Homo sapiens: one gene and its partners. The protein of the gene in region 6 purifies or fractionates together with the protein of the main gene of each other region. This does not show direct contact. Each region holds a gene or a part of one and is shown on either strand. Other genes may lie near its edges.

What was found.
Region 1: the proteins of TBCA (region 6) and GUK1 fractionate together in Homo sapiens (co-fractionation; one large-scale study listed by BioGRID). This does not show direct contact.
Region 2: the proteins of TBCA (region 6) and GDPGP1 fractionate together in Homo sapiens (co-fractionation; one large-scale study listed by BioGRID). This does not show direct contact.
Region 3: the proteins of TBCA (region 6) and TXNDC12 fractionate together in Homo sapiens (co-fractionation; one large-scale study listed by BioGRID). This does not show direct contact.
Region 4: the proteins of TBCA (region 6) and MTPN purify together in Homo sapiens (affinity purification with mass spectrometry, with the first as the bait; one large-scale study listed by BioGRID). This does not show direct contact.
Region 5: the proteins of TBCA (region 6) and LACTB2 fractionate together in Homo sapiens (co-fractionation; one large-scale study listed by BioGRID). This does not show direct contact.
Region 7: the proteins of TBCA (region 6) and PPA2 fractionate together in Homo sapiens (co-fractionation; one large-scale study listed by BioGRID). This does not show direct contact.

The regions. Positions count from the first base shown.
Region 1 is NC_000001.11:228,139,139-228,143,078, forward strand, and holds the start of GUK1 (guanylate kinase), read left to right. Parts: upstream 1-1,140; 5' UTR 1,141-1,164; coding exon 1,165-1,225; exon of another isoform or gene 1,226-2,495; coding exon of another isoform or gene 2,496-2,691; intron 2,692-3,940. UniProt on the Homo sapiens protein: Catalyzes the phosphorylation of GMP to GDP. Essential enzyme for recycling GMP and indirectly, cyclic GMP (cGMP). Involved in the cGMP metabolism in photoreceptors. It may also have a role in the survival and growth progression of some tumors.
Region 2 is NC_000015.10:90,240,709-90,244,208, forward strand, and holds part of GDPGP1 (GDP-D-glucose phosphorylase 1), read left to right. Parts: intron 1-191; 5' UTR 192-200; coding exon 201-1,358; 3' UTR 1,359-3,500. UniProt on the Homo sapiens protein: Specific and highly efficient GDP-D-glucose phosphorylase regulating the levels of GDP-D-glucose in cells.
Region 3 is NC_000001.11:52,041,692-52,045,191, reverse strand, and holds part of TXNDC12 (thioredoxin domain-containing protein 12 precursor), read left to right. Parts: intron 1-3,500. UniProt on the Homo sapiens protein: Protein-disulfide reductase of the endoplasmic reticulum that promotes disulfide bond formation in client proteins through its thiol-disulfide oxidase activity.
Region 4 is NC_000007.14:135,967,360-135,970,859, reverse strand, and holds part of MTPN (myotrophin), read left to right. Parts: intron 1-3,500. UniProt on the Homo sapiens protein: Promotes dimerization of NF-kappa-B subunits and regulates NF-kappa-B transcription factor activity. Plays a role in the regulation of the growth of actin filaments.
Region 5 is NC_000008.11:70,641,686-70,645,185, forward strand, and holds part of LACTB2 (endoribonuclease LACTB2), read right to left. Parts: intron 2,559-3,500; coding exon 2,380-2,558; intron 1-2,379.
Region 6 is NC_000005.10:77,690,666-77,693,502, reverse strand, and holds the end of TBCA (tubulin-specific chaperone A), read left to right. Parts: intron 1-150; coding exon 151-237; coding exon of another isoform or gene 238-381; exon of another isoform or gene 382-2,004; coding exon 2,005-2,085; 3' UTR 2,086-2,337; downstream 2,338-2,837. UniProt on the Homo sapiens protein: Tubulin-folding protein; involved in the early step of the tubulin folding pathway.
Region 7 is NC_000004.12:105,471,263-105,475,535, reverse strand, and holds the start of PPA2 (inorganic pyrophosphatase 2, mitochondrial isoform 1 precursor), read left to right. Parts: upstream 1-1,473; 5' UTR 1,474-1,485; coding exon 1,486-1,642; intron 1,643-4,273.

The DNA of each region.
Region 1 (3,940 bases), on a different chromosome or scaffold from region 6:
ACTGCACCCAGCCTTCAATAAATCTTTTTTAAAAATTTAAAATAATTTTTAGAAATAGAGTCCCGTGGCCAGGTGCAGTGGCTCACGCCTGTAATCCCAGCACTTTGGGAGGCCAAGGTTGGTGGATTACCTGAGGTTAGGAGTTCAAGACCAGCCTGGCCAACATGGTGAAACCCTGTCTCTACTAAAAATACAAAAATTAGCTGGGCGTGGTGGCGGGCGCCTGTAATCCCAGCTACTCGGGAGGCTGAGGCAGGAGAATCGCTTGAACCTAGGAGGCCCAGGTTGCAGTGAGCAGAGATGGCGTCACTGAACTCCAGCCTGGGTGACAAGAGCGAAACTCCGTCTCAAAAAATAAAAAAAGAAAGAAATAGGGTCTCGCTCTGTCACACAGACTGGAGTGCAGTGACACGAACACCGCTCACTGCAGCCTCGACTGCCCAGGCTCAAGCGACCGTCCCACGTCAGCCTCCCGAGTAGCAAGGACTACAGGCACAAAAAAGTTTTTAAATTTTTTGGTACAGAAGGGGTTTCCCTATGATCCCCAGGCTGGTCTCCAATTCCTGGCCTCAAGCGGTCCTCCCGGCTCGGACTCCCAAAGAGCTGGGATCACAGACGTGAACCACGCGCCCGGCCACATTCCCCAATTAATGGTTTTTGGAGAGTGGCCGGTTTGGAACGGGCTAGCGGAGTCGTTCGTTAGTTAGGTCCCTGCAGTGTAGATGGAGGACGGAAACGGCGCTGTGACATAAGCGGGAGGAGGCGGGCTGAGGCAGCGCTGTGACGTAGCAGATGAAAGCCGGGCCCGCGCTGCACTGAGGTACTTCTCTGAGTGACAAGCGGGACAAGTACGCCGTGGGCGGGGCCGGCGGGTCGTGATGTTAGTTCGCGCTGTGTGGAGGCGGGCCGGCGTGGCGCTGTGACGCAGCGGGAGAAGACGGGCTGGGAGGGCGCTGTGCTGAACGCCCCTGCGGTCGCGACAGGCCAGCGCAGGTGGAGGCGGGGCTAGCGAGGCACTGAGGTAAGTACTTCCCTAAGGGGCGGGGAAGAACGAGTGAGACATGGGCGGGGCAGTCGCCTCATGACGTCAGTCTCGCGCGCGGGCGGAGGTGGGCCGGTGCGGCGCTGTCACGTAGGTTCAGTGGGCGGAAGAGGTGGCCCCGGATGCTGCGGCGCCCGCTGGCCGGGCTGGCTGCGGCCGCCCTGGGCCGGGCCCCACCGGACGGTGAGTACGACAAGCGCGATCGCGAGGGTGACTCGGGTCGAGGCGGCAGCGGTCCCTGCGCTTTGCGGTCGCCCAGTCCACGCCGCCTCCGGATCTCCTCCTAGCCGAGACGCCCTGTGCCGCATTCAACTGTGGGCCCTGAGAACGGGGGAGCTCTGGAGGGCGGACGGGCTGGCAACGCAGCGGAGCCCGGGTCCCGGAGGGCGGGGCGCTCCTCAGGAGCTGGGCAGGCCGGCAGTTATCGCAGTGTCGAGCTGCTCCCCGGGCGTATAGGAGCGCTCGGTGTCTTCCCGACACCTGGGCGCGCCGCCAAAGAGAGCAGCTGGGAGTCCCTACCGCTGGCCCGGCGCGGTGTGCGCTCCGGTTCCCACCTCACCCTGCAAGCCTTGGGGTCCTGGGCGGATGGAGCCGGCTATTCCGGGGCTCCCAGGATTCTGCCTACTCCGCGGCACGGCGCAGAGACGGGGACTTGGGGAAACAGCAGGCCTTCCCGACGCATGGGTGTGGCATTTGGGGTTCGGATTCTCCAAAGCCAGAGTCCGGGTTGGGGTTCTTGAAGCTGCCCTGCTGCCATTCTTGAGCGTCGCCTTAGAAGTATGCCCCAGTAAGGACTGGTGTGGGAAGCAGGTGCCTCAAAGTTGATTTTGACCCTGCGTGTGGTGGGCCTCGGTTTCGTCTTTGCATGAAAGAGGTCGGTCCTGAGGCCCCGGGCTGGGTCCTGCTCTGCTGTCTTTGGGCTCATGGCCCCTTCCTGTCTCAGGCTTGCTCTGCTCTTTACCTGGGGTTGCTGTCGAGGACCCTGTGCAAGACTCGGCCGGTTTTTCTTTCTCCCTGATGGACAGACCCAAACATAGCCGCGCAGCATCGTGAAGGGCTGGGGCCTTCACTCCTCTGTGGCTCTGGAAGAGCCCGATTTCCTCAGGAGGTAAAGGAATGTTCCTGTCCCCCCCGGGGAAAGAAAGTGAAAATGAAAGCGCCCTGGCTGCTCCTGGTGTGGTCCCATTTAAAACGAGGTTGCTGAAGGCCAGGATGCGTGCTACCCGGATGTGTGCCCAGAAACCCTGCAGCCAAGAGCAGCCGCCTGGACCACCAGCCTCCCCTTCATCCACCTGGCCCAGCCCAGAGCCCAGGCCCACGTCTGGTGGTTTGTGTCTTACGAGAGGCCAGGCGGGGGCTGAATTCTCTCGGTTCTCAGAAGGTCAAGCCCTCTGTTAGCATCTCCTCGAACAGTGGGCCGGGGGCAAGGTGGTGACTCTGTTCAGTCCTTAGGATGGCTGGAAGCCAGAAGGAGGAGATTATGCCGCCACAGCAGGGAGTGCCTTTCCAGGAAAGCGGCTGCTGGGGCAGCATGGGAGCCCAGTCCAGGGAGCGTTCTGGCAGAGACCATTCCGGAACATGGATCTGCGCCGGCGGCTCCCAGGAGACCTTCCATCTCGGAGCTCCTGTGGAGACCACGTGCCTGGCAGGTCCTTACAGTTGTGGGTTGTGTGGCTTCTTGCCAGGCAGCTGATTGGAGTTTGCGACTGTGGGTTGGTGAGAGTGGAGAGCACAGAATGTTTGCTGGAATGCTTCCCTCTGCCCACAGGAAGACACCTTTGGCGCATGTGTTCTGGTCAGGGCAAAGGCTCCGTGGTTTCCACCGCAAGATTGCAGGAGCCTTGAGGCCTGGGCCACAGTTTTCTCCCTTGGGTGTGCTCCATGGAAGGTGGCTTTGGTGACCGCCCTGCCACTGGTCTCTCCCCAGGCAGGCAGGCAGCCTGTGCCTCCGCCCTGTCTCCAGCGGTGGTGGTGTGGCTGTGCTTCTGCAAGGCCCGCATCCACTCACTGTCTGCCCTCTGCACTCTCTGGCTGGCCAGGGCCCCCAGTAGTCTGCTCATTGTGCCCTCACGCTTGGGCAGAGCCGAACTCAGGGGACCCAGGAAGAGCGGAGTGTTGGCCCGTCCAGAGTTCTTGGCAATTGGTGTGTCATGTGTGCCTCGTGCCCTGTGCTGGGCGAGAGTGGGCACAGCTGCGCAGACAACGCCCTTGGCGAGGCTGGAGCCTGGACCCCTGCCTGGCAGCAGCTGGGTGAACTGGTGTCTTCTGCCTGCGGGCCCAGCCTCACCTCAATAGCTTACTGCTCCCTCAGGAGGGAGGAGGGGAGGCCTGGGAGCCTGGGCTTGGCGGGGTAAGGGTGGTGCAGGGGCAACACCTGTGGAGGAAACAGGCGGGGTTGGGGCCCACCAGCGTCTGCTGTCTGCTCTGTGCTGGGTTGCATCTGTTGGTGTCTGATCGTTGTCAGGGCCCTGTGGTGAAGAGACACACCTGCCACTTGCTGCTTGCGAGGAAAGGGGGAGATCCCCAACCCAGGAGCCAGAGGTGGGACTCCAGCACCCCCCATTCCTGGGAGTTGGAAGTGAGGCACGAGCTCCCCAATTCCTGGGCATCGGGGATGGGGTTTGGGGCCGAGGAGGGGATGGAGACCAGGGTCTTGTGGTAGTTTGGTGGGATCCTCAGAAGGTGTGGCTCTCCCCCTTCTGAGGACGCAAAAACTCCCAGAGTTTTTGGCGATTGATGTGCCACGTGTGCCTTGTGCCCTGTGCTGGGCGAGTGTAGGCACAGCTGTGCAGACGACGCCCTTGGCAAGGCTGGAGCCTGGACCCCTGCCTGGCAGCAGCTGGGCGAACTGGTGTCTTCTGCCTGTGGGCCCAGCTTCACTTCACTAGCTTAGCGCTC
Region 2 (3,500 bases), on a different chromosome or scaffold from region 6:
AGGCTGAGGCGGGAGAACCGCTTGAACCCAGGAGGCGGAGGTTACAGTGAACCAAGATCACTGCCACTGCACTCCAGCCTGGGTGACAGAGTGAGACTCCATCTCAAAAAAAAAAATAAATAAATAAATACAATGACAATCTCTGGAGGTGGGTTACCATCATGTGTTTTCATCTTTTATGACTATTTCAGGTCAGCTCTATGGCTCTTCCACATGATTCAAACGAAACTTCCTATTTGCTGCCTCCCAACAATGAGGACTGGGGCAGGCAAACCATTCCTGACTTTGTTTATGGGCAGAAGGATCTCATGGCAGAAGGGATTCAGTGGCCAAGGAATGCACCTGGCATCCCAGATGCTCTGCCACAATCTCCCTTTGATGCTGCACTCTGCTCTGCCTGGAAGCAGCGGGTGGAGCTGGGGCTGTTTCGCTACCGTCTACGGGAGCTACAGACCCAAATCCTCCCTGGTGCTGTGGGTTTCGTGGCTCAGCTGAATGTGGAGCGTGGTGTGCAGAGGAGGCCCCCGCAGACCATCAAGAGTGTGAGGCAGGCATTTGACCCTGTACAGTTCAACTTCAACAAGATCCGGCCCGGAGAAGTCCTCTTCCGTTTGCACCGGGAGCCTGATCTCCCTGGGACTCTGCTGCAAGAAGACATCCTGGTGGTGATCAACGTCAGCCCCCTGGAGTGGGGCCACGTGCTGCTGGTGCCTGAGCCTGCCCGCCAGCTCCCCCAGCGCCTGCTGCCGGGTGCACTGAGGGCAGGGATTGAGGCTGTGCTGCTGAGCTTACACCCGGGCTTCCGTGTCGGCTTCAACAGCCTGGGAGGCTTGGCCTCGGTGAACCACCTCCACCTGCATGGCTATTACCTGGCCCACAGACTGCCCGTGGAGCAGGCGCCAAGCGAGCCCCTGGACCCTGGAGGCCATTTGCATCTGCTCCAGGACCTCCCAGCTCCTGGCTTCCTCTTTTACACTCGTGGGCCAGGGCCTGACTTGGAGTCCTTGATAAGCAGGGTATGTCGGGCCACTGATTATCTGACTGACCATGAGATTGCTCATAACTTGTTTGTCACCCGGGGAGCTCCGCCGGGAAAGACATCACCTTCCTCAGCCCTCACAGGGGTCCGAGTAATTCTGTGGGCCCGGAAGTCCAGCTTTGGGATAAAGGACGGTGAAGCTTTCAATGTTGCCCTCTGTGAGCTGGCTGGGCACCTCCCTGTCAAAACATCCCAGGACTTCAGCAGCCTGACAGAGGCAGCTGCTGTGGCCCTCATTCAGGACTGTCGGCTGCCCCCATCCCAGGCAGAAGACGTACAGGCAGCACTGGTGGCCCTGATGTCCCAGGAAGAGCAATAATACTTCTGGATGTATTTATGTTCTTTTTTTCTTTTCTTTTGAGATAGGGTCTCACTCTGTCCCCAGGCTAGAGTGTAGTGGTATGATCCTGGCTCACTGTAGCCTCCACCTCTGGGGCTGAAGTGATCCTCCCACCTCAGCCTCTTGAGTAGCTGAGACTATAGGCGTGCACCACCACACACCTGGCTTTTTTTTTTTTTTTTTTTTTTTTTAACGATTAGGTGATTTTGTATTTTTTTATATAGACAGCGTTTCACCATGTTGCCCAGGCTGGTCTTGAACTCTTGGGCTGAAGCAGTCCTCCCACCTCGGCCTCCCAAAGTACTGAGATGACAGGAGTGAGCCCCTGGATTCTTTTCTGTTTCTTTTTTTTTTTTTTTTTTTTTTTTTTTTTTTGAGATAGTCTCGCTCTGTCACCTAGGTTGGGGTGCACTGGTACAATCTCGGCTCACTGCAACCTCCACCTCTAGGGTTCGAGTGATCCTCCTGGCTCAGCCTCCCGAGTAGCTGGGACTATACAGGCTCCTGCCACCAAACCCGGCTAATTTTTTTGTATTTTTAAAAGAGAAGGGGTTTCACCACATTGGCTAGGCTGGTCTTGAACTCCTGACTTTAGGTGATCCGCCCGCCTCGGCCTCCCAAAGTGCTGGGATTACAGGCGTGAGCCACCACACCCAGCCAGGATGTATTCATTTTCTACCTGATGAGTCCCTTTCCAGAGCACTGTCCATCATAGTCCTTTGGACATTTATTTTCATGGCTGCCTTCTCACCTGTCTCAGCCTAAGAAGAAGGATGAAGAAAGCTGATAATGATCTCTTAAAGGGGAGAAAGATAATGGTCTCTTTAAAGGGGAGCTGATAGTGGTCTCTTTAAAGGGGAGAAAATCTGGAATAATTCTACTGAGTAAGACATCATGAATGTATCTGCTACCTCTCCCCGTTCTTGTTCAAGCCCCAGGGGTGTTAAAAAGGAGTGTGTGTGACAGTTACACACTCCTGACTTTACATTTAGATTTTGTCTTCCTTTGATATCAAATGTTAGCACGGTAATAGTGCCTGTGCCTCCAGTATTGAGCTGCCACTTCTGTTCTCAGCCTGTTTATTCCCCTTTGCTCACCACTTATTTTTATTGCTTTGTCCCTTCTTTCCATTTAGCCCTGCTCCACCCAAATGCCCCACTCCTTCACTTTCCCTGCCACCTTGAGCTTTCCTCTAGCCCCCAACACCAAGTTGAATGCTCTTCACTGACATCATCTGATGTAAAAACACAGTGTTGTCACAACTTTCCGGGTGCACGTCTTTTTTTGTTTTGTTTTTTTGTAAGGCTGGGGTGCAGTGGTGCAATCACAGCTCACTGCAGACCCAAACTCTTGGTCTCAAGCCACCCTCCCACCTCAGCCCCCTGAGTAGCTGGGACGATAGGTGTGCACCATCACACCTGGCTAATTTTTAAATTTTTTGTAGAGATAGGGTCTTGCTATGTTGCCCGGGTTGCTGTCAAACTCCTGGCCTTAAGAAATCCTCCCACCTCGGCCTCCCAGAGTGCTAAGATGCCACCACACCTTGGTGCAGGTTTTTTTTTTTTTTTTTTTTTTTTTTTTTTGACACAGGGTCACTGTCACCCAGGCTGGAGTGCAGTGGTATGAAGACAGCTAACTGCAAGCTTCAACCTCCTGGGCTCAAACAATACTCCCATCTCAGCCTCCCTAGTAGCTGGGACCACAGGCATGCGCCACCACACCCGGCTATTTTTTTGGAGAGATAGCATCTTGCCAAGTTGCCCAGGCTGGTCTCGAACTCCTGGCCTCAAGATCCTCCCACCTCAGCCTCCCAAAGTGCTGAGATTATAGGCATGAGCCACTGCACCTGGCCTGAGTTTTTTTTTTTTTTTCTTGAATCAGAGTTTCACTCTGTTGCCCAGGCTGGAGTGCAGTGGTGTGATCTCGGCTCACTGCGTCTCTGCCTCCTGGGTTCAAGCAATTCAGCCTGAGTCTTCTTAATACCCCCATTCAAAACGGGATGGAGACTGACAGTTTGTACTTTGTTCAAGGTCAGGCAGCTGGAGTCGGGACTGCAGCACAGGCAGGTACCAGAAGATGAGCTGGGACAATGTGTGCTTGTGACCGCCTCTCCAGTCAGTG
Region 3 (3,500 bases), on a different chromosome or scaffold from region 6:
TGTCATGTAATTGGAATTATGTAGTATATAGCCTTTTCAAATTGCTCTTTCCACTTAGTATATGTTTAAGGTTCTTCAATGTCTTTTCGTGGCTTGATTACTCCTTTCCTTTTATCACTGCATATTCATTCACTTTGTATTTCAACAAAACTGTATTTTTAATTTCTAGAAGTTCTGTTTGATGACTTCACAGATTTGACTTTCTTTTTTTTTTTTTGAGACAGAGTCTTGCTCTGTCACCCAGGCTGGAGTGTGGTGGCGTGATCTCAACTCACTGTAAACTCTGCCTGCCAGGTTCAAGCAATTCTCCTACTTCAGCCTCCCAAGTAGCTGGGACTATTGGCTTGCACCACGGCACCTGGCTAACTTTTTTGTATTGTAGTAGAGACAGGGTTTCACCATGTTGCCCAGGATGGTCTCGAACTCCTGAGCTCAGGCAATCCATCCACGTCGGCCTCCCAAAGTGCTAGGATTACAGACATGAGCCACCACACCTGGCCAGATTTGACTATTTATTTTGCATGCTGCATGCCTGTTTTTGTGATTCCATGTGTTATTTCTTTAAACATTTCATGCATAGCTATTTCTGTATTTTGTGGCTGATAATTCTAATATCTGAATTCCTCAGGGATCAAAATCTGTTTGTTGCTTGTGTTCTTGTGGCGACTTCTTTTCTCACATTTTTGGTGATCCATGATTGTGAGCTCATAATGGTTGTTCTTCTTCATTGGCTATCCTGGAAGCCTAAAGTGGAGAATCTTTTCCTCCAGAAAGTTTTGGCATTTGATTCATCTGAAAACCAGGGGGTACCACTCACGTGGAATCACTTTAGTCTCTTTTGAGGGTTGTGTTAATGTGGGAGTTTCAGATTCATCTCCATTTTGCCACATCATAATGGACGCTTGCGTTCAGGGCAGCCTCACTTGCTTGTTGCTCATAGGTTTTAGCTTGCTTTGTGTTTATGGAGGGTTCTGTCATTACTGAGTCTAGTGAGCACATTCTGAAAGTCCATTTTATCTAGGATTTCATTGTTTTGTAGGTGTATATCCCTTCAGACTGTCTGGTTGGGCATCTTGCCAAAGCAGGATTCAGTTGCCTGAGTTTAGATATTGACCAATAGAGTGATGGTGATCATGTTAGACACCTTGCAGTTCTCCTGGGCATCCTCTCAATTTCATTCTCAATCACTCACTCTTCAGAGTCAAATCTTGAGCCTTAGGCAAGTGACAGCATCCCATGCTGTTGGGAATGAAAAGTGAGGATGGTTAGTTTCGATACTGCCTGCATGTGCTCATCTGGATGACCTTTTGTTTCCCTGTGGTAGCACTGATGAAAATTAGATTTGAATTTATTTCTGAGAAAGAAAAATCTGAAAGATGAGTGTAGTAAACCAGAATGGCACACGATTGCAATTTAAATCTCAGCTTGGCCATTTAGCAGTTATGTGACCAGTACAGGTGATGTAACTTCTCTGAGCCTCAGAAGTCTCAATCGTATAGAATAACAAAAGCTACTACTTACTGATCATTTATAATATGCTAAGCACTATGCTAAGTTTTTTGCATATATTTCTTATTTAATATTCAGTAACCTTATGAGATATAATTATTTTATGCCTCTTTTAAAGATGAGAAAACAAGCATACAGAGATTAAGTAAAACTGGGTTATTAATAAGGCCAAATTTAAATGAGATAACACATGTGGTATGTCAGGCACATATAAGGTGGTCAGTAAACAGCAGCTAGCATTATGATCACTAATAATTTTTGGATATAAAATTCTTTTTGTGATATGATCTAAATAAGATTCATTTGCTCAACAAATATTTTATGGAGCACTTACTGTGGCCATGTGTACTGCTAAATGCTAAGGAAACAGAGAGGAATAAGAAAGATATGGTCCAGAGATGGACACATAAACATTTACAAGTCAGCCTGGGGAGTGCTGTGATGGGGTAAGAATAGGGTGCTTTGGGAGTCAGGGAAGATATACCAGAAGAAATGCCCTCTAGGCTTATACCTGAAGAATGAGTTGGAGGTGAGGGACGGAAGGAATTGCACAGGTAGTAGTGATTGTGAAAGCCTGGAGGGGAGAGAGTGCGTGCTACTCTCATTTAAAGAAGTGAAAGGGCCGGGTGCGGTGGCTCATGCCTGTAATCCCAGCACTTTGGAAGGCTGAGGAGGCTGGCAGATCACCTGAGCTCAGGAGTTCGAGACCAGGCTGGCCAACATGGCGAAACCCTCTCTCTACTAAAAATACAAAAATTACAGTCCGGGCACAGTGGCTCATGCCTGTAATCCCAGCAGTTTGGGAGGCTGAGGCGGGCAGATCACCTGAGGTCGGGAGTTCAAGACCAGCCTGACCAATATGGAGAAACCCTGTCTTTACAAAAAATACAGAATTAGCCAGGCTTGGTGGCACATGCCTGTAATCCCAGCTACTTGGGAGACTGAGGCAGGAGAATCGCTTGAACCCAGGAGGTGGAGGTTGCGGTGAGCCGAGATCATGCCATTGCACTCCAGCCTGGGCAACAAGAGCAAAACTCCATCTCCAAAAAAAAAAATTAGCCAGTCGTGGTGGCAGGCGCTTGTAATTCCAGCTACTCAGGAGGCTGAGGCAAAAGAATCGCTTGAACCTGGGAGGTGGAGGTTGCAGTGAGCCAAGATCATACCACTTTATTCTAGCCTGGGTGACAGAGAGACTCTATCTCAAAAAAAAAAAAAAAAGTGAAAGTATAGTATAGGGTGTATATATAAGATTTTAGGAAAAATGTGGAAAGTGAGGCTGGAGAGGTGGGCAGGTGCCATATTCTGAAAGGCTTTGTAAACCCTACTGCAAGAGTTGGACCTTTATCTTTAGGGCATTGGAAAGCCTTTGAAAGTTTTTTTGTTTTTGTTTTTTGTTTTTTTCCTGGAGTAACATGATTTAGAAAGACCATTCTGTGCTATTCTACAAAACATGTTCAAGAGTTTCAAAAAATAAAATAGGAAGATTACTCTGGGTGAATTGTGGGAATAATAATAACAATAGCTTTAAATACTTACTTCATTTAATCCTTATACTAACACTTGGAGGTAGGTCTTATTGTCTTGCTTTTACAGATGAAGGAGGAAAATAAGAAAGAAATTGGGACTTGGAGAGCTTACTTCACTCACAAGAATTCACACACGTAATAGGAAGTGGAGTCATGGACCTAGGTCTTTCTGAATCTAAAGCTGTATTGCTGAATCACCTTCAATTGGTTATGATTTGTTATGACCTGCTTTATGTTTACTCTGTGGGAAATTCTCGTTCATTCTTACAGTATTATTAGCATATTCCGTGATAGTTTACAAAGCATTTAACGTCATTTTTAAATTTAGCCTCCTTTGAAACTGTGAATTAGGTGGTGGTGTCTCCATTTTGCAGGTATGAAAACTGAGGCTTGAGGTATGGTCCCATACACCTAGAAGGTGGTGGAGCTGGGACTTGAACACCAAGCTCTTGACAGAAGAAAACC
Region 4 (3,500 bases), on a different chromosome or scaffold from region 6:
ATGTCAGCTTGTATAAGATACAGGTGCCCTCAGTAGACAGAGAAACATTAGTATAGATTCTTTTCTAATTATTAATGCTTTTAGTCATTTTAAAAAATATATAAAATAGAGGAAGATCTTTTTTTACATTGGAACATAAATGTTCATTCAGATGTACATAGGCTATATAAAGTGTTTTGGTTTGAGATTCTAAACATTTTCCTTTTATTAGTGCAGATAATTAAAAATTTAATGAATTAAAACTGATAGAAATTATAACAATATTATGAGCTTGTTATTTAAAAAAGCAAAGCTGTATTGAATAAAGTAAAATATCCCATTGACTATTTTTCCTACCTATGTGGTTCCTCTCTTTAAAATATAAAATTGATTAGGTGTTTTTAAAACAGAAAAGAATAAAGAAGACAAAAATTGGCCAAAATTTTACTATTTAGATAACTCCTAACTTTTAAAAAGTAAAATTAAATTAATTCAGATGTGGATTTTAAAATGCCACAGTTAGGACTGAAAGGTAAAGATCTCCCCTCCCCAATGCCTGTGAACAAATCAGCCATTCTCAACAGGTCCATGTAATTAATTTCAGAAAAACATTGAAAATTTACTTACTCATCTGTTTTTCCCGCTTAAAAAGTTCTGTAAACACTTCTGCACTTTGCTTTCCACATTGAAATGTATTTATTCTTCCCTTTTTAAATGGTGAATAGTATTCCATTTTCTGGATGTTTATTTAACTATTCCCGTATGATAAACATTTTGTTTCCAGTGCATCTTTGCAATTAAACAGGATTGTCGTGATCACCTTTGTACATATACCTTGACAACTTTTGAGACTATATCTGCATTACTCTCTTCATGAGTTTCGTCAGCTTAGGCACACATTGGCAGACATGAGACCGATGGTTCCCTCACACCATCAACAGCACTGGGCATCATCAGACTTTTTAGATTTTGCCATTTGGATAGGTGAAAAATGATTGTTTATGTCTTTTGTTTATTTTTCTTTTAGTTGGTCTGTTTTTTATTGGTTTGTATAAACTCTATAAATTAGGGAAATCAGTTTTTTATCATGTTTTGCAAATATCGTTCCCAGTTAATCTCTTGACTTCATTTATTTTCTTATTCTACAATGGTCTTTTACTTTTTGTGGGGTTAAATGTATCGCTTTTTTTCTCTTTTGTGACTTGGATTTTGTATCCTGTTTACAAAGACCTTTTCTCTTCTGTAAAATTACAAATAAATTTGCTCTTCTGGAACTTCATTTTTTCTTCCATTTTGGACATTTGACCTTTCCATTATTTATTTTGAAGTAAGGCATGAAATAAGTGTATACTTTTTTTTTGACAGTTCTCATACCATTTATTATTATAGTTCCTCTTTTTTTTTTTGCACGTTAAGTGGTATATATTATAACAGATATTAGGAAAATGCAAATTAAATCCACAATGAGATACTACATTATAACTATTAGAATGGCTAAATTGGTAAGACTGAGAAGCTCTAAGGTGAAATGTTCAATAAATCATATTTAAAACTTCTTATCTGTATTAAGTAAATATTATTTTGTTTAATATTTTTTCTAGTAATTTCTGACATTCTTTTTTTTTTCTTTTTTTTTTTTTTTATTATACTTTAAGTTTTAGGGTACATGTGCACATTGTGCAGGTTAGTTGCATATGTATACATGTGCCATGCTGGTGCGCTGCACCCACTAACTCGTCATCTAGCATTAGGTATATCTCCCAATGCTATCCCTCCCTCCTCCCCCCCCCCCACCCCACAACAGTCCCCAGAGTGTGATAATCCCCATCGCAAGAACAAAAAACCAAACACCACATATTCTCACTCATAGGTGGGAATTGAACAATGTAGTTCCTCTTTACTAATAATTTGAACCATCATCTTTATCATAAACAGATTTCTTGCTCTTTTTCTATCTATACCAAACTGATTTAATGATGTGTGGTTTCAAAATAGGTTTTAGTATCTCCCTCTCACATTCTCTTTAGGATTTTTGCAGGTGATTCCTTAAAATTTTTTTTCCCATAATCTCAAGAAAAATATTAGGATGATTTGAACCTACCTAAAACTTAACCTGTATCTTTTAATAAGCATTAAGCTTTTTTTTTTTTTTTCTGGAATGCTGGGATCGTGTGATCTGTGGGACATAATACTTTAACTTTTAATTCTTTATGAATCATCTTAGGAGGATGTCATGCACTGTGAGAATGTGCCATATCAAAGATTCAAAACAGAGGAAGTGTGTTTAGATAATCAAATCACAGCAAAATTGGTGATGAAAGTTAGTTTATGGTATTACATCACAGGCCACCTTGTAATAAGAAAAATGGCTGAAAGTAATTTTTTTGCAGCTATATCTTTACTAAATAATTCTGATAAGCTTAGAAGCTTGATTTTTTTTTTCAGTCCACAGAAAATTACCAGTGTAAAGAGGAGCTGTGATTACTGAAAGAAAAGAAACCAAAATGTAAGAAGCTGACCCAAGAAAGTGAAGGGCAAAGAGCCATATTTACCTTAAAGTTTCAGAGGCCTCAGGCAATAATTAATATGTATAAGCGTAACCTTGAGCTTCACGAAAAGTTTAAACTTGGTTACTTTTCTCTTATTTACAAAGTCAGAGACATGTATAACATATTTTAGGAAGATTTCAATTTGACATATAAAAAAGAATGAGCATTTTGATACTTAGGCCTAAAGTAAGTATCTGAAAAATACTGAAAAATGGAGGTATTAAAAAAAAATTGTAGGCCAGGCATGATGACTCATGTCTGTAATCCCAGCATTTTGGGAGGCCAAGGCAGGAGGATCTATCACTTGAGCCCAGGAGTTCAAGACCAGCCTGGGCAACATAGCAAGACTTCCATCTCAACCACAAAAAAATTGTAGGTAGTAAACACTTTAAACATAGTACAATAGACGCTCATTATGGCACTGTCCTTTAGGGATTTGGAATTGCATTATTGGTGAAACCATAGCATAGAGGCTAAATGTGTTGGCTTTGGAATTAGATCTTCCAGGTCTGGCCTTCTTACTAACTAGACACTTTGGGTGAATTAAGCACTCAGAACTTGAGTTTCTTCAATTGGTGAAAATGGGAATGATTGTAATACCTACATAATAAGTGTAAACTGTGTACCATTGTGCCTGGCATATGGTGAGTGCTAGTAAATATTAGCTGTTGTTACTAATCAGCATCCTCATAAATTTGTTTAGAAGCAAGATTACTTACAGAGCAACTAGTCCAGCTCCCTTATTTTATAGATAAGGAAAAATTAAGTGTGAAAGCCCTTGACCAGTATCATAGTGCTATTTGAGATTGAAATTTAAATTCAGTTTTCCTGAACTTGGATGAGGGTTGGTTGGTTGGTTTTCCGCTACACCATTGTGTTTGCTAATGAAGTCATCTTGTGCTAGCTGTTACCTCTAATAAATTATTCTTTTTGTCCCACAACATCTGCTTGGCAAATTTCTTCTTCTTCCTG
Region 5 (3,500 bases), on a different chromosome or scaffold from region 6:
TCCTATGTATAGGCTTCTGTATGTCAGAAATTTTGACAACCCAGATTAAGTTATACTATAATTTACTTCCCCTTTAAGACAGTACACATTAATATTATATATTATATAAGTCTGCAAGAATGATGTTCTTAAATATTTGAGAACAAAATATCCAGAAGCAGGCTAACCTATTACGGGATCTGGTTAGACACAGACCTATCATTTATTTGCTGTGTGGCTAATAAATGAGGAAGTATCTGAATCTCTCTAAGCTGTTTCTTCTGCTGTGTGGTGAGGAAACCACTACCTACTTTACATGGGTTTTGGTGAGGATGACAACTGTAAAGGCCCCTGCACAAAACCTGATGGCTAGAAGACTTTAATATATGGTAGCTATGGCTACAGAGCATAATTTACATATAAACAACTGCTGTGCTAGTAAGCCAGTTCACTGGATTCACTAAAGCACTCTAGAATCTTTACTAGGTAGCCTCTCATTAGCTTAGCTTGAATGTGAATTCACTCAACGTCTGCCCTCTTCGCTTTAAAAATAGCTGTCTTTAGCAAAAACAAAGCAAAACAAACAAACAAACCCCCCCAAAGCTATCAGCCCGCAATCCTTTAATGTCATCATATAAATCTAAATGCCCAGCTCTACCGTATGTTTTCTATTCCCCCAGCAGTAGGAACTCATCGCAGAGTGTAAATGTGTTGAAGATACTGGATGGACGGATCTTTCAATGGCTTGGTTAATCGCAAGTTAGAAGAACTTAGGAAGTTAAGTGACCTAGTCCCTTTTTCCTTTTGGGCCTTTTTATTGGGTCCTGTGTCTTTCTTAGCTTTTTTTTTTTTTTTTTGAGAAGGAGTCTCACTCTGTTGCGTGATCTCTGCTCACTACAACCTCTGCCTCCCAGGTTCAAGTGATTTTCCTGCCTCAGCCTCTTGAGAAGCTGGGATTACAGGTGCCCACCAAGACGCTTGGCTAATTTTTGTATTTTTAGTAGGGATGGGGTTTTGCCATATTGGCCAGGCTGGTCTTGAAGTCCTGACCTCAGGTGATCTGCCTGCCTTGGCCTCCCAAAGAGCTGGGATTACAGGCGTGAGCCACTGCGCCTGGCCATTTCTTAGCTCTTCAGATGAAGGAGAGATTGATATTGTAGAACAGTCTAGTGAGATCTGAGACACTAACATGTTTCTTTTTCTGGAGAATGGAAATAAAGATACCATTTTATAGTTGATATAGAAGCTATTGGTATTTCAATATTGTAAATTAAAAAAACTAAAGCTCAGAGGTCAAACATTACCCAAAGTTACACAGCTAAAATGTGGTCCAAATAAAAATCAAGTTAACAAAAATAACAGTGGTTTATGGAATGAAAACATTTTCCCATTTCAATGTAAGTTTATGTCTTTTTAACAGTTCTATTAATAACTGTATGTTGAAAAATAACCCTCATATCTTTATCAAAAGTTATTAATATGGCTCTTGGCCTTCTCTTTAAGTTTAACTGCACAGCTAGACAGGACTTAGGGGTGTATTTTCCTTTTTTTTTTTTTTTTTTTTTTTTTTTTTTTTTGAGACAGAGTTTCGCTCTGTTGCCCAGGCTGGAGTACAATGGCGGATCTTGGCTCACTACAACCTCCACCTCTCAGGTTCAAGCAACTCTCCTGCCTCAGCCTCCCGCGTAGCTGGGATTATAGGTACCTGCCACCACGCCTGGGTAATTTTTGTATTATTAGTAGAGACAGGGTTTCACCATGTTGGCCAGGCTGATCTCGAACTCCTGACCTCAGGTGATCTGCCCACCTAGGCCTCTCAAAGAGGGGTATATTTTAAAGAAGTAGTTGATATGTTTTTTTTTTCCCCCAGACAGAGTCTTGCTTCTGTCACCCAGGCTGGCATGCAGTGGTGCAATCTCTGCTGACTGCAACTTCCACCTCCCAGGTTCAAGCGATTCTCCTGTCTCAGCCTCCCAAGTAGCTGGGATTACAAGTGTGCGCCACCACACTCAGCTAATTTTTTTATTTTTAGTAGAGATGGGGTTTCACCATGTTGGCCAGGCTGGTCTTGAACTCCTGACCTCATGATCTGCCCACCTTGGCATCCCAAAGTGCTGGGATTACAGGTGTGAGCCACTGAGCCTGGCCTTATATGTTATCTCTTCAAGGCCAAATACATACAGAGACAAGCCAAAATGAACCTTCCTCATCATTTGACACAAATGGTTTGCTAGGTTTGAAAAACTACCCACTTTGGCATGCCTGTATACCCAGCGCTTTGGGAGGTTGAGGTGGGAGGACTGCTTGAGGTCAGGAGTTTGAGAACAGCCTGGAAAACATAGCAAGACCTTGTCTCTATTTAAAAACATAAAAATATAAAAAAATTTAAAAATTACCCACCTGGATATATAATATCAGCTTTGATTTTCAATAACTCTTTTAAAGAGTTCATATAATCATAGAGGTCTTCAAATACCGTTGTTCCTTCCCCTAGGATGCAATCTCCAGAAAAGATAGCATTTTCCTCTTCTAAGAGTAGAGCCATGTGATCATCAGTGTGGCCAGGGGTATATAGAACTCTGGTTGAAAGAAGAAATAAGGAATAATAACAATTATGAACTCGAGCTTAGAAGAAATTTTGAGAAGTAAATTATTCTGTATCCTTATCTTTAGACACAAATAAACAGATGAGTTAAAAAGCTGCTTTTTCTTTTCTTGAACCCACTGAAAATTATCATTAGAAAATTCTCTCCTTTAACTAAACCAAGATTCTCACTCTGAAGTAAAATTTAATACTTTTCCCACCCTTTTTCTTTTCTTTTTTTGAGACAGGGTCTCACTCTGTTGCCCAGGCTGCAGTGCAGAGGCAGGATCACAGGTCACTGCAGGCTCAATCTTCTGGGCCCAAGTGACCCTCCCACCTCAGCCTCCTGAGTAGCTGGAACCACAGGTGTGGGCCACCAAGCCTGGCTAATTTATTTTTATTTTTATTTTTTGTAGAGACAGGATCTCACAATATTGACCAGGCTGGTCTTGAACTCTTAGACTCAAGCAATCCTACCACCTCGGCCTCCCAAAGTGCTGGGATTACAGGCATTAGCCACCTCATCTGGCCTCCTACCATTTTTCTTACTTTATAAATAATAAGCACTGATTATAACAAATTTGGAAAATAGAAAAGTAAAGTGTTTAAAAGAAATGAACATCAACAATCATTTCTATTCCTCAGAGGGAGAGCTTTTATTATTACAGAATATATACTTTTTGATTTTCTATGCATATTTATATATTTTAAAAACAAAACTGATATTGTTTTAATACCTGATTTTTGAAATCTTAACTTACTATATTGTATTTTCCTACATCATTATATGTTTACATCATTTTATATATATATATACACACACACACACATATACACATATATACATATATGTTTATTTATTTTTGAGATATATCAAGGTCTTGTTATGTTTTCCAAGCTGTTCTCACCCAGGCTGAAGCGTGGTGGCATGTTCCTG
Region 6 (2,837 bases):
TAAATACAATTTAAGTTAAAATATTGAACCATTTAACATAACCATAACTTTTTTCTGATTCCTCTTAATAAGGATATACTTACCAAGATATGAGCTAAACACCTACAAGTTCTGCCATCTTTGAACGTCTCACAGAGATTCTCATTCTAGGCAGAGATCCTACAAGAATCCAGGATGATGATCCCAGATTGCCAGCGCAGGTTGGAAGCCGCATATTTGGATCTTCAACGGATACTAGTAAGCAAAGACTTCTGTGTCATGTTTAAATTTTTTTTTTCAATCCAATACATGGAAAGCCAAAAGTTTAAATATTTAACACTGAGAACTAGTTGGCAGTATTTCTTATTCACTTGCCCTTTATACCGCTATATTTTAAAATAATTAATGGAGTTTAAATTGTGTTTTGAATTATGCCTCCAGTAAAAGTACTGTTTTCTAGCATGTTTGTTCAGTTTATTAAAATTTAGCTAGTTAAATTTATTTAAGTTATGATAGTACCAGTATTGTCCAGCAATGTCTTGATTATTTGGTTTTCATACATAAAGATCTTTTGAGACATTGAGGATGAGTTGACTGATTAAAATTTTAAAAGATCTAATGTTTCAAAAGAATTTGGGATCTTATTAAAAGGATCTTGAATTCTTTCACATTCAAACCTAGATCAGTTTGAGAGGGGGAAAAAACCTGGTAATCTATGTAGTCCCCTCATACTAACTTGGAGCTGAATAACACTTATACTTGCTGGTATAAATGCCTTGTGATACAGAAGGTAGATAAAGCAGGAAATAATAACTGTTAAAATACTATCTAAGACAGGAAGCATCATTTGTATTTCTTGACAGTTTAAATGCTTTTTTCTCTCATGAATCTAGTAGCTGAGAAAGTAATAGAAATTGCTTGGAAAAAAATAATGTTGGCCGCCAGGTGCAGTGGCTCATGCCTGTAATCCCAGCACTTTGGGAGGCTGAGGTGGGTGGATCACGAGTCAGGAGTTCAAGACCAGCCTGACCAACATGGTGAAATCCTGTCTCTACTAAAAATACCAAAATAATAATAATAATAATAATGTATTTGGATGATATATTTGTATGTGAAGATGTATTCAACAATATCTCTGCCCTTGAAGAGCTTGTATTTACTAACAGAGAACAAAGATGTGTTTAAGGTATAACATGGAGGTTTAAGAAATTCTTACGTATAGTTTGAGCTAAGCAAATTCTCAGTCGTTTTGCTTTCAGTTTTCATATTAAATACACACATACTTTATTTCCTCTACTGTTTGTATATCTCCATCTTTTATTGACCTGACATAAATTGCTAACCATAGCTTCATTTAAAAATCAAACAAAATTTCCTGTGTACTTTAGATAATATTATTTCATTTGTCTGTTATCATTACAATATATTAGTAAAAGTTGCCTGTATATCAGTATTATGGAAAAACTCAATCTTTAAATATCAGAAAATGAAAGATGTATTTTGTTTCCTTTAGTGTAGGGTATGTAATACCCATTAGCAAGCAGGCAATTCATTTGTTTAATTCAAAGATTATATTTAACTCTGTTGTGACATCAGAAGCCTTCTTTGTCATTGTGAATAGTCAGTGGATTATTTTGGCCTGAATGCTGTCATATATGTAACATGTTAGTAAATCTTCCTTTTTACTTTTCTCTTTTGTATGATGATGATGGGTCAACAAAATGAGAATAAACTTTTTCTGAGGTTTTTATTTAATTAATGCTGGTAGCTTTAGAAGACTGTTATTCACTTATTTTATGAGAATATATACAGTGAAACAAAACCACCAGTTATTTCTTCCTTTCCTTGTAAAGAAGGAACAGAATGTGGGAAACCTGTGGAATTACAATATATTTAGATGAGGCTTGGGATTTTTTACTTTTAATTTTTTAGTTATTAACATTAATGGTTTGTAATATTTGAGTAAATAACAAAGTACTGAAACTTGAAAAGGATAAACTTAATTTTTATTGTATTTCATTTTAGGAAAATGAAAAAGACTTGGAAGAAGCTGAGGAATATAAAGAAGCACGTTTAGTACTGGATTCAGTGAAGTTAGAAGCCTGAAACTTTTCTCGTATGGGGTGGTTTTTGCATTAAATCCTGGGGTCCATTTTACAATCCATTATTTTTGACCACTGCTATGTGTTCAAGTAGTATGAGAATGTGATTGTTTTTATCTGGTTACATATATATTTCTTTGTCTAATTTAATATGTCAAATAAATGAGTTCATCTAATAAAATTGTTTATTTTATACTTTACAAAATTTTTAAATTAACCTTTTATCATTAAACCACATAGACTTTATGACAGAGAACTATAATCTGTTAGGTTCTATTCGAAGTCTACATATTTTGCTTCACAAGCATGGATTGAGTTTTAAAAAATAGAATACCATTTTTTCAAATAACAATCCAAATTTTAGTTGGGTGTAGTGGTACATATCTGTATTCCCAACTACTGGGGAGGCTGAGGTGGGAGGATTGCTTGAGCCCAGTAGTATGAGGATGCAGTAAGGTATGATTATGCCAATGTACTCCAGCCTACGGAACATAGCAAGACCCTATCTCTAAAAGATTGAATTGTAAGCAGTTTATTTGGAATAGAATACAACTGATATAAAAGGAAGAACTCTCTTTGGGGAAGGTCTCACATAATAAGGCCTTCACAGTGAAACTCTAACATTTCCATGACTATAAATGAATGAGAAACATTTAAATCTTTTTCGAGGACAGATTCACACAGAAAACACCCCCAACCATTTAGATCTTCAAATAAGATTCTTATGAACAATGAAGAGTTGAATGGTATTTTGAA
Region 7 (4,273 bases), on a different chromosome or scaffold from region 6:
CCCAAAGTGCTAGAATTACAAGCATGAGCCACCACGCCCAGCCTGGATACTTTAAGTATCCACAGATCATTAGAAATTAGCCTACAACCCTGCCTCCATAGGAATTTGTCTTATTTAAATATCTAATCTTCAAAAGTTAATAGAAAAATTAAGCTTTTTTTCAACATAAACAAAAAAATTATACAACTCTGTGATATATGCACAGAAGAGATTTTCTCTCCTTTTTATGGGAGCATTTGCCTTATAGTTATGCCTATTCAAGTTGACACATTACAAAGGTACCACTGTTGACAAAAACATTTTAGGATCTATAATCTTAGTAGAGTGTCTCTAAGTAGCTAGTCACAATATCTCCTAGGAATCCTTTCTGGAACTTGGGTAGACCAGTATCTCAATTTTAATGATCACACGATAATTGGAGATGCTGAAAGAACCTGGGTGCCCAGTAGGAAAGTAGCCTAGATGATGATAGTCCCAAAGAAGATGGACTAGAAAAAAATAAAATGACACGTGGCAGACTACTGGTTGTTCTACAATATCCATTCTCCTGGATACTGGCCCAAACCATCCTCCTATCTCAGCCTCCCAAGTAGCTGGAACTACAGGCGTGTGTGCCACCCCGCCTGGCCGATGCGCGGTGGCTCACGCCTGTAATCCCAGGACTTTGGGAGGCCAACGCAGGCGGATCAATGGAGGTCGGGAGTTCGAGACCAGTCTGACCAACATGGGGAAACTGTCTCTACTAAAAATACAAAAATTAGCTAGGCGTCGTGACGCATGCCTGTAATCCCAGTTACTCAGGAGGCTAAGGCAGGAGAATAGCTTGAACCCAGGAGGCGGAGGTTGCAGTGAGCCGAGATTGTACCATTGCATTCCAGCCCAGGCAACAGTGTGAGACTCCGTCTCAAAAACAAAACAACAACAAAAAATAATAAAATAAAAGAAAGAATAAATAATCTCTACTGGGTTAGGAAATGGCCTTATGGAGAAGATGGCATTTGAGTAAGCTACTTAGGGTTTTTTGCTCTGTAAGTCGGTGTCAACGTCCCGTTTTCACGTGGTGGCCTGATCATTTTGTCTTATAGTGATGTCTTTGCGTGCATGTGCGCTCATCTCCTATATTGGACAGGGTCTAGAGCAGTTCCTGGCACAGAGTAATCACTCAATATTACATCACTATACTAAAAAATCATGATAGTAATTCTTGACGGGATAAATGAAGGCATGAATAAATGTATGAATTAACGAGTGGCAGTGAGCTCTTCAGGGGTGGTGGGTCTTGTCTCACTCGTCTTTGAGCTGCGGCCTCGCTGAGGGCATAGTGCGCACAACTGGCTGGTGTTCCAGATTCCACTGGCAGGGACCAGGATCGCAGCCCGAGCGCCGGGGCGGGAGGGATGACTCCGGACGGTAGGGGGCACCGGCGTGCGGCCCGGCCGAGCCCCCAGGTAGCTCCGCGCGCACAGCAGGACCGTCATTGACGCCATGAGCGCGCTGCTGCGGCTGCTGCGCACGGGTGCCCCAGCCGCTGCGTGCCTGCGGTTGGGGACCAGTGCAGGGACCGGGTCGCGCCGTGCTATGGCCCTGTACCACACTGAGGAGCGCGGCCAGCCCTGCTCGCAGAATTACCGCCTCTTCTTTAGTAAGTAGCTCCCGGAGGTTCGCCGAGCGGCGCACCGGAGAAACCTGGGTGGGGGATGGAATGGGGGACACTTGGGACGCCCCGCGCGGTCTCCCTTCTCTCTTTTTGGGGCCCTCAGCGGTAGCCGCGCGGTCCAGGCCACCTTACTTCCCGCGGGAGCGCGCACCGAGTCACGAGAACTGCCAGCGAGGAGGCGGCGGATCAAGACCCCAAAGCGGAGAGCAGAGGCGCAGGGCTGCCGGCTGGGGGGTAGATAGCGCCCTGTGCCCTGCCAGCCGCCCTCCCCGAGGGGTAGGCAGAGTGCAAGCGGCCACCCCGCGGCGGCCTGCAGCCATTAGCCGGCCCGGCCGCCGTTCCCGGTTCACACAACTCAGTGAGGAAGGGAAGGCAGAGCCCGCCCACACGCCGGCCTTCCTAGAGGCGTAAGAAACCTCCTACTGCGGGAGCTCCCTGACGTCGGAGAGGCAGGCGGAACTTTGCGGATGCCTAATCCAGCGCGTCTTCTTTTTTTGGAGGGACTCTGATGAAGGTTCTTTCCCCAGAAGCTTGACTTGGTACGCACAAGTTTACACCCTGAGTGTGATCCACCATCCAAAGCCTCGTTGGTTCCGGAGCAGCCCCTTTTCCTCCCCAAGCTGAACAAGCCCAGAAGGCTAAGCGACTTCGGGGGGGTCCCTGAGTTGCCGAGCTCAGAGAAAGGACCCAGGTCTTCGTGACTCATTGTTCCGTGTACCCCATTGTTTCACTGTGTACGTTAACCGTAACAGAAAATAGCGATGTCGGTCGCTTGCCTTCACTCCCCACTGACTGCAGAGCCTTGGAGTGGTAGTATCAAAGTGGGCCTTGCATTATCGCTCCCCTTTTCGGAGCACTGGCTCTGGAGGCTTTCAGTTCTAAGCAGGCCCTCGAGTTCTTCACGTCTTAACTCTGTGACCCCGGACGAGTTTAAGTTGCTAAGCCTTGTTTTTTCTCATCCGTAAAATAGGGCTGCAAGTATTACATGACATTATATATGTAAACTGATTAGTCACAGGGCCTAAAATATAAATTACTATTGTTAATACCGATAATCATTATAGATATTTGTAATTTATGAGAGATTTGCAGTTATGCTACATGAGTTTAGGGTCGAGGATTATTTTGTGGGAAAGAAGAGTTTGCCTAAAGTCGTGTGATTATAATGCAACTAGTACTAGAATTTCTATTTTCTTCAAAATTGGTTGCAGTTTTCACCCTATGCCACATATTTTCTTCTATCTTTGGTTAAGACTGATCAGGTGAACAGGAAGTCTCAAATTTCTGAATGGATTATGTTCTAAAAGGTTACCATGTGATGATTAATGGGAATAGTCAGAAAAAATTATGAAGTGGCAGTTCGCTTTTTAAGCAGATTGAAAAAAGGCCTGTCTACTGCAAGTATTCTAGATTTGCAATAAGTACGGTAATTAATAGATACCCAAATAATAAATATTTATGAAGTGTGCTAGACACTGTTAGGCATAGTACAGAGATTCACAATATTACTATAATTATGGAAAAAGTAAATACACTGGTTGAGCAAAAACAGGCTTGAGAAGCCAGGAGCGCACAGAGTAGTTGACCCAGTACCGGATTTGGAATGGGGAGTCCTAGGCCATAATCTTGGCTCTGCCGTTAACTCGCTGTGTGCTGTTGGGTGGGTGGTTACTTCAGTTCTTTCTCACAGAGCCAGTTTCTTCAGCTGTAAAATGAAGCTTTTGACCTTGAAACGATGATCCTCAAGGTCCTTCTCAGCACTGGTATTCCCTGAAGGCATTGGATGAATAACGGAGATTCTAACAGTCTCTGTTAAGACAGGATGTCGAATGGGGGCATTTTTGGGAGTATGTTGGCCTCTTATTGTTGGTTTGTTTCTTTAGCTGCAAATGTACTTAGGACTCATGATTTTTCTGTAACTAGAGTGCCACAAATAAAATACGTTTTTCATTCAGTTGGATAAACAGGGCAGGAAAGAAGAAAACCCGATTTTACTAAGGTAAATGGGCAAAAACTGGAAGAAAGGGGAGTGTGGTTTTGGAGAGGGTCCCGATGGTAAGATCCTGATTGGAAGGTGTGTTGGTTAAACAATTTCTGAACTAACCGCCAGATGGCATCACTGGCCAGGACTGTTTACTACCTGCTAGAAGGGGTAGGGCAAAGTGAAACGAAGCCACTCTAGGGCGAATGGGGTAAGGGGAAAGCAACGAATAAATTGCCCTTTATAAAGATGATCACAGATTGGATATTTATTACTCAGTGTGTCTGTATGCAGTACTAGGGTGGACTAATGTCTCACTTCAAAAAAAATATGAGTGTAGTATACTTGGCCTAAAATTGTTACTCAGTGTTACTAAAGTGTAATCATTTTCCACATCTCCAAATATATTCCAAGTCTCTGAAATACTAGTGCATTGGGAGGTAGAACATTTTCGAGCTTCATGTCTGTAAATGGTTTCTCTTTACTGTCATTCAGTAAAATCAGAATAAATGATTGATGTAATACTTAAAAAAAAATTGGTGTTAAACTTTGTAGAAAGAGTGAGACAGGATGATTAGGGGAAAGGGTATCCTGATGGGAATCATCAGGCCTCCTTGGTGCCAGCCCTGACCCTG